3 linked regions of the Homo sapiens genome follow. The protein of the gene in region 3 interacts with the protein of the main gene of each other region in a pairwise test. Each region holds a gene or a part of one and is shown on either strand. Other genes may lie near its edges.

The links.
Region 1: the proteins of MSGN1 (region 3) and CCDC172 interact in binary tests that used the Homo sapiens proteins (3 or more experiments, as listed by UniProt).
Region 2: the proteins of MSGN1 (region 3) and DNALI1 interact in binary tests that used the Homo sapiens proteins (3 or more experiments, as listed by UniProt).

The regions. Positions count from the first base shown.
Region 1 is NC_000010.11:116,327,419-116,331,073, forward strand, and holds part of CCDC172 (coiled-coil domain-containing protein 172), read left to right. Parts: intron 1-3,655.
Region 2 is NC_000001.11:37,559,938-37,563,592, forward strand, and holds part of DNALI1 (axonemal dynein light intermediate polypeptide 1), read left to right. Parts: intron 1-1,619; coding exon 1,620-1,798; intron 1,799-2,143; coding exon 2,144-2,308; intron 2,309-3,655. UniProt on the Homo sapiens protein: Involved in sperm flagellum assembly.
Region 3 is NC_000002.12:17,814,885-17,818,378, forward strand, and holds MSGN1 (mesogenin-1), read left to right. Parts: upstream 1-1,575; 5' UTR 1,576-1,634; coding exon 1,635-2,216; 3' UTR 2,217-2,914; downstream 2,915-3,494. UniProt on the Homo sapiens protein: Involved in specifying the paraxial, but not dorsal, mesoderm. May regulate the expression of T-box transcription factors required for mesoderm formation and differentiation.

The sequences.
Region 1 (3,655 bases), on a different chromosome or scaffold from region 3:
ATATTGACCTGATATAATATATTTTTTAATGTTACTCTGTAATATTTTCTTTGTTAGCAAAGTTTTGTTTTGTCTGCAAATGGAAATGTAATTTGTTGATATATACACATACATTAAAAAATGTTGATTCAGTTGTTTTTACTAGAAAGAAGACAGAAAAGGCCTACCATTGTTTAGAAACATTTGTTGAAATTACTAATTAATATAGGTTCATAAGCATGCATTGCTTTTTAACCAGCTCATATATGTGGGTAATAATACATTTGTATCTTACTAATAAAATTAACATATGAGGGTCACAGTTCATACAATACTAATTTATAACTGAAATAGTTTGATTTGTATTATAGTCAAGATGGTATGTATATGTGCATAAAGATTTTAAAAGTGGAATCACAATTATAATGCATATGACTAATGGGAAGAACTGAAGAACTAATCCTAAATTGATTTCTTGTTTCTTTTATTCTGAGTTAATTATATGTCTGCCAATAACAATGAAAATATATTTACTTGAATATTTGACTTGGCATTTATTGACCCATTTATCAAACAGTAGCAGCACAAGGAGAAACTATTAATAGAACATAATTTGAATAGAGCAGTGCTTGAGCTATTGTACAGTCATACATTCAGAAAATTTGGGGGGCATTTATTTTGGATGTTGTTTCTGGTCAATAAATGTATTTGGGAAGTACAGTATTCATTTTTTTTCTTTTATGTAAAACCCGGATAGCATGTAATTAGAACTTGAATGATAGCATTTGCCTTGCAGGGCTCAATGAGTCTTTTAAAATATATGGTTGCAAAAGTCTCAGGTTATATAGTATGAGTACTTTATGAATTGGACAGCTACACTATGCCTGGTTAGGTTTGGTAATATGAAAACAGAAAAATGAGAACATGCCCTGGATTTGCATTCATGCTTACCAATACATCCAAAACTTCTGATAGTTAAGGAAAAGTTGTATAGTATTGATGACAGGGCAAACCAAAATTAAGGACTGACAGAACATTGGTAGTTTCTTTTAAACATCTAAAAGAGCTTCTTCTATTTTTAAAAATGGCATATAATTAAAATTTTGACATTTAATTTTTATAAACATATTACATAAAACTCAATATAATGCCATATTCCCTTAAGAGGGAGTAAATGGAGGAAAATCTGAGGCTATTTTGTGAATATTTTGTTTATTTTTTCTGTTTCCAATTTTAACTTGTGTAAACACCATAACAATAATAAAAGAATATTTCATGAATTTTTAAAGGAAAATTGTATTGAAATTAAAAAGTAACTTAAGGTGGCCCCATTTACTTCTTTACCTCAATATGTATGTGTTCTTTTATTTTAATTGGTAAAAGTTAGGAAACCTCCAGAACAGCAGGCAAAGTCATATCCTTTAGTACTGTATTACCTAATTGGAGAAAGAACAAAATCACAAATTATTATCATTTATAGTATTGAAATGGAGTTTTGTAATTGGAGTGCTTTTTTCTTTCTTTACACTTAATCAAAAAAATTTAGATCCTACCAATATTTAATTTTATAGTTGGCAATTATTCATTCAACAAACATTCATTGAGCAACTGCTAAATCACACTATGAATACTTGGCAAATAAATTATATAACACCTTCCTTCCTGAATTACAGGATTGACATCAAGCAATTTCAACTATATAAACCTAACTGTAAACTCAAAATTTTTGAAGTTCTCATTTAAAGAAAAAATTTGTTTCCATTTTCTCTATGAAATTCTATAAAGAAAGCCTTATCATGTTTGTCATGAGTAATTATCCAAAACTTGGAAATAGGCAAAAAAGGTCACTGAGTGTCCTTTGAGTATTGTATTAGACATTGTCCAGTAGCTCACCTTCCTGAGGACAGTCAGGTTTATGGGGGTGTGAACCTTTGTAATGGGCTGTTTTTTCTTGGATATGCCAATCATTCTTTGACCCCAGGGCCTTTGCACTTGCTGTTTCCTCTGCTTGAAATGCTGATTCCATTAGCTGTTATTCTGTCATGCACGCTCACTTCATTTAGATCTCTCCCAGTAGAATCATGTGGGACTTTTAGTGCTAACACTAGGACAGCCCCATGCAAATCTTGATGGTTGGTTAGCCTAAGTCTCTGCTCAGTTGTCACCTTAGAGCATTATTCTTAAAGTGTGATCTCTGAGTTCAAAGGGGTCCCCAAGACACTTTCAGGGAGTTTGTAAGGTCAAGCTATTTTTATGATAATACTATACAAAGGTACCATTTGCCATCTTCTCTATGTTAATGCACACATTGACAGTGCAAAAGCAGCAGTGAGTAAAACTCTTAGCACCTTAACACAAATCGAGGTGGTGGCACCAAACTGTACTAGTAGTCATCTCGTATTCTTCACTGCCATGCACTCTCAGTAAGAAAACAAAAACCGCTAGTTTTACTTAATGTTTTGATTGAAGTGTCAAAAATATTAATTTTATTGGAACTGATCATTGAGTATATTCATTTTCAATATTGTGTACGATCACATGGGTGGTACATCTAAAGTACTTTTATATTCCGAAGTGCCACGATTGTCTCAAGAGAGAGCATGTGTGCAGTTGTTTGAGATGCAGTATGAGCTAGCTATTCTTTTTCTGAAACGCCATTTTTACTTAGATAATTGACAGTCAAGTTGTAGTTATTTAGATTTGGGTGTTTGGCAAAATTTTCTGAAAAATAAATGAAGTAAGCCTAAAATGTCAAGGCAAACATCTGACATTCTTCTTATTATTTTGCCAATGATAATATGCAAGCTTTCAAACAAAAATTAGAATTTTGGAGGATTCCTATCTATCTTGGCAGCTTGGCAGCTTCCTGGTACTTAAAGATTTTTCTGGTGAGTTCGTTAGTGATATTAATGAATATGAATGTTACTTTTGAAGCAGTATGTTTCAAGATGTTTCAGAATGTTACTTTTCAAAGCATATTATGAAATATATCAACATTTGGAGGATCTGCATAATTCAGGGAAGCAGTAAGTAATGCATAAAGTTACAAAACTGTGCATAGATAAAAGGTAGACTCAAAGTGCAATGTAGACCAATGGATTTTATTATAACATAGAATGAAAAGTTCATTGAAACGGCTTCAGATTCCACATTGCAACTAACCTTTAAGGAGCTACCACATGGTGAATTTTGATATAGTATCAAAGAAGAATATGCACAATCATTTCCAACTACATATCTGTGCACTCCGTATTCTCCAACTGAAAAACGTATTACAAAAGATTGAGTAGAAGCAGATATGAGAGTCCAGCTATCTTCTTTTTTAATTTTTTGTTTTTATTTATTTATTTTTAAGAGACAGAGTCTCACTCTGTTACCCAGATTGGAGCTCAGTGGCACAACAACAGTTCACTGCAACCTCAAACTCCTGGCCTCAAGTGATCCTTCTGCTTCAGCTTCCTGAGTAGCTGGGACTACAGGCCTCTGCCACCCTACCTGGCTAATTTAAAAAATATATTGTTTTCTAGAGACAGGGTCTTGCTATTTTGCCCAGGCTAGTTTTGAACTCCTGGCCTCAGGTGATCCTCCCACTTTGGTCTCTCAAAGTTCTGAAATTACAGGCGTGAACCACCAAACCTGGTCTCAGCTGTCTTCCATTAAGCCAGATGTTAATGAG
Region 2 (3,655 bases), on a different chromosome or scaffold from region 3:
AGCAAAGGAATCTGTGTCACGAATAAGTTCAAGGGAAGGTACTATGCCTGGATGTGCACGTAGGCCGGATTTATGCTTCTCTCTACCCAGACATCTCAGTGGAGTAAAGAGTAACAGAGCAGCATTGCTGCCAACATGTCTCGCCTCCCGCCACAGGGCGTTTTTTCTCCTATCTCAGAACAAACGTACAATCAGGTTTTATACTGAGACATTCAGTTCCCAGGGGCAGGCAGAAGACAGAGGCCTTTCTCTTATCTCAACGGCAAGGGGCCTTCCTCTTTTACTAATCCTCCTCAGCACAGACCCTTCACGGGTGTCAGGCTGAGGGACGGTCAGGTCTTTCCCATCCCACCAGGCCATATTTCAGGCTATCACGTGGGGAGAAACCTTGGACAATACCTGGCTTTCCAGGGCAGAGATCCCTGCGGCTTTCTGCAGTGCATTGTGCCCCTGGTTTATCGAGAATGGAGAATGGCGATGACTTTTACCAAGCATGCTGCCTGTAAACATTTTGTTAACAAGGCACATCCTGCACAGCCGTAGATCCCTTAAACCTTGATTCCATACATCACATGTTTCTGTGAGCTCAAGGTTGGGGCAAAGTTACAGATTAACGGCATCTTAGGGCAAAGCAATTGTTCAGGGTACAGGTCAAAATGGAGTTTCTTGTGTCTTTCTTTTCAACGTAGACACAGTAACAGTCTGATCTCTCCTTCTTTTCCCTACACCAGCCCCGCCTCTTCTACAAGTCCTCCAGCTGCCAACCACTATATTCTTGGCAACTTGAGTTCCTCACCCCTTAGCAGATGTTTGGAGTAAAACGATAACTTCCATCTGTTTTTTCAAAGATTTTCTATAATAAGCATGTGCTAATTTTTTAGTCAGAAAGATTAATGTTCAGTATTTACATCCATCCATCCATCCATCAATATTTGGCCCTTGGTCCAGAAAAATATTGTGATTTGTTGTTAACCCACAGACACGAGAGATTTAAGATGCACCTCCTTGAGTGCTGGTGTCAAATGGCTGTCTCCCAGCCCAGTCTCATTGGCTCTTATGGACGCCGATCTGCAAACCACCTCCAAACCCTCAGGCAGCTGCAGGGTCTAGCAGGCTTCCCTATCCGTGTGTTATTATGGTTTGCCCTCCAGGTCAGCATTTATGGGGAGATAGATGGGCAAGCTCTAGACCCTGCCATTTCCCTCAAACCAGTGCAGCCAAGGGGGCACACAGGATGTCCCAGCTGCTTTAAAACAGCTGCCATCTTTAAACAGAAAAAGTCAGGTTTTTTCGAGTAGTAACCAGTTTTTACCTAAGGCAGGAAGGGAGGGGACCCAGTGCTGTAAACAAACCAGAGCCTCTTGTCTCCTTTGCTCTGGCCAACCCAGTCTTGCTGACTGTGCTACTCACAAGTGCCAAGTTCAGAGGAGTGACTGCATGGCAAGGCTCTTTGGGCCACTGAAGGCACCCTCCCTGAGGCCCTTCTCTGAGGCCTTGCACTTTGTCTCCAAGCGAGAACACCCTAATGTCCTTCCCAAGAGGAAGGGTGTTTGCAGTAGACATACTGCAAGCCCCCTCCCCACGCCCTGTCTGATCTCATGGTGTGTGTGCATTGGAAGATGAGTTGATCCGGGAGGTCACCATCAACTGTGCGGAGAGGGGGCTGCTGCTGCTGCGAGTCCGGGACGAGATCCGCATGACCATCGCTGCCTACCAGACCCTGTACGAGAGCAGCGTGGCGTTTGGCATGAGGAAGGCACTGCAGGCTGAGCAGGGGAAGTCAGACATGGAGAGGAAAGTGAGTGGGGTTTACCGTGACCCTTGGTCCCATCTCTTCTGTAAACCTCAGGGCCACATGCTTATCATTCCAGCACTACATTCTGACCTCCTAAGGTGCTCTGCTGACAGTCACGACACCTGGACTTGCATCACCTCAGTGAGGGACCCCTGGTTGAGTATGATGGCCAGCCTGGTGGTCTTGGCAGAGTTGTTTCCGCTGTAGACGCTCCATGCCAGGCACTGACCTCCCACTGGGTGGCAGTATATACCCTGGCAATGTCATGTCCCATGTCCCTTCCACCCAGGCTCACACCATTCCATTCACCTGGCGACATCCCAGGATGACTGGGCATTCTCTCCTCAGATCGCAGAATTGGAGACGGAAAAGAGAGACCTGGAGAGGCAAGTGAACGAGCAGAAGGCAAAATGTGAAGCCACTGAGAAGCGGGAGAGCGAGAGGCGGCAGGTGGAGGAGAAGAAGCACAATGAGGAGATTCAGTTCCTGAAGCGAACAAATCAGCAGCTGAAGGTAATCAACGCGCAGGGTGGGGTGGAGGTGCCCCCTGCCCTGCGACCCAGCCCCACAGGCCAGGCATTCGGTTCCTTTTCCATGGCTTTTAAATGTTTGTCCACATGCACTGCCAAAGGATAAAGGAAGCTGACTTTGGTGGTGGGAGAAGGGGAGGGCTCCAGAGGGGGTCTCTACTCTCAACTCCAAATCTCTGAGGCGCCTCAGCCTGGCTCTCCAGTGGAGGATTCTTCTCCCTGGAAAAAAGTTGCCCATCCTCAAGGAAGAGGTGGATATGGCAAAAAGTGGAACTCCATTCCCCTGGAAGCTGGTATGTTGGAGCCTTTCTGGAGGGGGCTGGGCTCCAGGTGGCTTGCGTGGTAGTGCCATCCCATGGCTGTCTCCTCTGAGGCCCTGTTTCAGGGCATAACCAGGGAAGAAGTCAAAGGGCAGCAGGGCCCTTTGAGAGGAAGAACCATTTCAAATCAGAAACCTTCCCCAGAAATGTGGTCGGGGAACCCAGGCACAGGTGCTCTTCCTCGAAGTCCGATGCCAGCAGTGGTCTTTTATCCAGCTGAGGTGATAGGAGGGAGGGGGCTGGTGGACAAAGCTGGGCAGGAGGCCATGCTACAGGCACTGCAACTCCCAGCTGTTTGGTCCAAAGGTCTCAAAAGGTAGGCCCTAGATCAACATCGTCCTCACCTGGCAAAGCAAGACAAATTATTGGGCCCACCCCAGATCTACCAAATCAGAAAATTCGGGGTTGGGGTCCAGCAATGTGCTTTAACAAGGTCTCAGGTGATTCTAATGTTTGCAGAAGTTTGAGCATCACTGTTCTGGAAAGATGGCCTACTGACATTTAGTGGCCTTCTCCCATGGCCCTGGCCAAAGGACCCTGGATGGATCTCCCTCTCCTCCCTAGGCTCAGATAGAAACCTTACAATCTTGACATTGCAGGCTTGTTTGGTCTACACACCAGCAGGACTGGCCATTTGCGATAAAGAAGGCTTTCTGTTAACCACTACTGGAACTTTTCTTGTTGCACAAAGAAAAGCAAGAAACTTTCACAGCCAGAGATGAATCTGTTTCCTTAGCAGCCTCTGAGGCTGCTTTCCTTAACTGCCATATTCCTTTTTCATAAGCCTGAGTTCCTCAGTTCTTCCTGGATTAGCAACAAGAGCAAACCAAATACCTTAGCATGTTTCTAACATTTAAAAGCAATCTTGTAATCTCCAGGGTGAAAGATTCTTTAGAAGTTGGCATTTTTAAATTTTTTTTCTTTTGAGACGGAGTTTTGCTCTTGTTGCCCAGGCTGGAGTGCAATGGCACCATCTCAACTCATTGCAACCTCTACCTCCCGGGTTGAAG
Region 3 (3,494 bases):
TGGGTACAATGTACACTACTCAGTTGACATGAGCACTAAAATCTCAGATTTCACCACTATACAACCCACCCATGTAACAAAAAAACATTTTACCCCAAAAGCTATTGAAATAAGAAAAATTAAAAAATATATAAAATTCCTTGCATAGTATCAGCAGATTCTGGGCTTCTCAACAAGAATTGGAAGAGAGAAGAGAGAGGAAAAAGGAGCAAGAGTCATTTGTTACATTTATTACAGTCATTAATATTATTATTTTTCAAAATCCGGCTTGGGGTTCTTCAGTAAATGGTAAAATTAAGAGCATTCTTCTACAGATTACCTACTTGAGATTTTTCTTCCTTGAGCCTTGCTAATTAAAAAATATCATAAATGTTCTAACTAGGCCATTGACATTTATTTTCAATAATTGCAAGGGGACTTAAATAACCTGTTAAAGGACATGTTAATATTACTCTACACTTTAACTCACTGCGACTTGATGTTAATACTAATTTGTAGAATTAGTTACATGGAAAATAAATTAAGTTCATGGGACAAATGGGGAATCTGAGATCCCTTTTCCAAAACCCAGGGTCTAGCAGAGCATATAGGAAGTGAAGCAAACTAGCACAACCATCCAACTTAACACATTCAGTGGCATTTGGAGCTGTGGTGGGGAAAAGAGGCTCCCTAGTTAATTTCACACTTCCTCCATACATTTCAAAAAGCAAGGTGTGACTCATTTCAAAAAACAAGGTGCAGCTGGGTTTGTTAAAAAAGACTTTCCTTAGGCTAAATGCCAGGTATTCTGCAAAGTCCCTGGCTTAAGGGAGTTTTCTGTTTCCTAGTATCTGTTTGCTGTGCGGAATCCAAATCTGCTCGGTAACAGCAAGGGTTTTATGCCTCTGGTAGGATGTTTCCTGCTCTTTAAGGCTCTAGGCTTACTGGAGTTGCTGGCCTTTGTCGTTCTGAGTGTAGGCATGTTCCGGGCATGTCTGCACTCTATACGACCCAGGGAAATTTACTAAGGTGGCATCCACTGGGTACCTCATGTGTGTGGCACCCCCAGCAACCCTAGGAAATAAGAGCTGTTGTTTTCTGTGTTGGACACATTAGGGAATCAAAGCCCAGAGGGGTTACCTTGTCCCTAGACCATGCTGCTTCTCCAACAATACAGCCCAACTGTGCTGAAATATCTAGCAGGTCCTGGTGGAGGGGATGGAGGCCCTCTCGGGTCACTTTGCTACTCTCCACCAGGGCCCTCGGCCACCCCCTCCTTGCTGCGGATGCCCCAGGTTTGTTTTCTTTGGCTCCCTCATTAATGAGTTCCACAGCACAATGCTAAGTCTAGTTATGCAGCCTTAATTGGTTTAGTTACAACAAGATAATTCCTTTTTTCTTCTCTTGGAGGCCTTTCTGTTTAAAGACATTTTAGCTGGAAGATGCTAATTATCAATGAGGAGAAAATGACACCTGAAGAGTTCATTTTCCATCTTGGTCTTTGGTTTTTCCTTTGAACTCTCTTTACACGGCCCTCTTTCCCACTTCATCACTTCTCCCCCACCGTCATAAAAGAGAGCTCTTCCCTGGCCAGGCGGCAGAATTTTCTTTCTCACTTGCCAGGGAGCCATTCCTTCTGCAGCTGTCTCGCAGGCATGGACAACCTGCGCGAGACTTTCCTCAGCCTCGAGGATGGCTTGGGCTCCTCTGACAGCCCTGGCCTGCTGTCTTCCTGGGACTGGAAGGACAGGGCAGGGCCCTTTGAGCTGAATCAGGCCTCCCCCTCTCAGAGCCTTTCCCCGGCTCCATCGCTGGAATCCTATTCTTCTTCTCCCTGTCCAGCTGTGGCTGGGCTGCCCTGTGAGCACGGCGGGGCCAGCAGTGGGGGCAGCGAAGGCTGCAGTGTCGGTGGGGCCAGTGGCCTGGTAGAGGTGGACTACAATATGTTAGCTTTCCAGCCCACCCACCTTCAGGGCGGTGGTGGCCCCAAGGCCCAGAAGGGCACCAAAGTCAGGATGTCTGTCCAGCGGAGGCGGAAAGCCAGCGAGAGGGAGAAGCTCAGGATGAGGACCTTGGCAGATGCCCTGCACACCCTCCGGAATTACCTGCCACCTGTCTACAGCCAGAGAGGCCAGCCTCTCACCAAGATCCAGACACTCAAGTACACCATCAAGTACATCGGGGAACTCACAGACCTCCTTAACCGCGGCAGAGAGCCCAGAGCCCAGAGCGCGTGAGCTCCATCCGGGGAAACTGACCGGTTCCAGCCTCCTGAGCAGGAGTAGAGGAGTTTTGAAGACCTGGATATCTTATTGAACAATGATCGGCGTAGAGTGATTTTTATGTAGTAAGCCTGATAATCTTGTGATCTGAAAAACCCTAAGGGAATTCACATGTAACCTGTTGGACCCACCAGAACACTTACCTGCCAGATGAGCAGAGACTTTCACCTCCAGTTTTTTCCACCCATCTGGGAGGCTCATCCTTTGCAAACAGACAGATTATTTTGCCCTTCTCTGTCTGTTCAAGGTATTTTAAAGGGTCAGTGATTTTAAATGCATTTTTTTCAATAATGTAAAAGTGTTAATCTCTTGCCATTTTGGCGTTGAGACCTTTTCTTCTGTTGCTAACAAAACCTGTATTTTGTATAGGATCCAGTGTGATATCTGGATTCTTATTTAGAAAGATTTGTGCCAAGTAAAGGGCTTTAGTGCTCCTGTTTTCATTTCGTGTGTATATGTGTGTGTGTTTGTGTTTGACTGAAATCATGCTGTTGCAGGGACCAAAATCACTTAAATGCGGAAGGCACTGGTGTCATGATAAATGGAAAGTCACAGGCAGACAGGCTAAGTTAAGACAGTGAAGATTCCAAAAGCCAGAGCCTCCTCTTCACAGGCAAACAGCTTGTGTGACAGGGAAGGAGGGTACGGGGAGGAGGAGGAGGAGACAGCACCTCAGGGTGGACCTGAAGCAAGGCTGGGTGGGCAGGGTCTCCCTGTCCTTTGTTCTGGGCCTGGTATGAACAGGACCTTATTTAGTCCTTTCACTTACCCGTTTGTCAAATAAAAAGACAGTCTCAGAAAAAAAAAAAAAAAAAAGTGATTCGAATCCCATAAAGAATAACTAAAAGGGTCAGTGTTAGAACTGAACAATCTCTGACCCCTCCAAAGGCATTTACTTCTTCATCTTCCCCTCCTATCCATCTGCCTCCCCCCAACTCCAGATCCCCCACATGCACCCATCACACACACACCCACTCTTCATGGTGCCTTGTCTTAGGGTGGGTATCTGTAGCACCCACAGTTTAGCTCATTTGAATGGCACAGGACATTGAAAAGGGGGCTTTGAATTAAGGAGGTTCTGAAAACTAGTGAGATTTTTTAAGGCTGAATTTTTCTCCCTATGGTTATTAACCATTAGTATTTGTTGTACATGTCTCCTATCATCTTTTTTCTATTGGTGATTTTGTTTTCTTTTTAGTGACATAAATTACAAAAGCAGTAGATGTGTTCTCT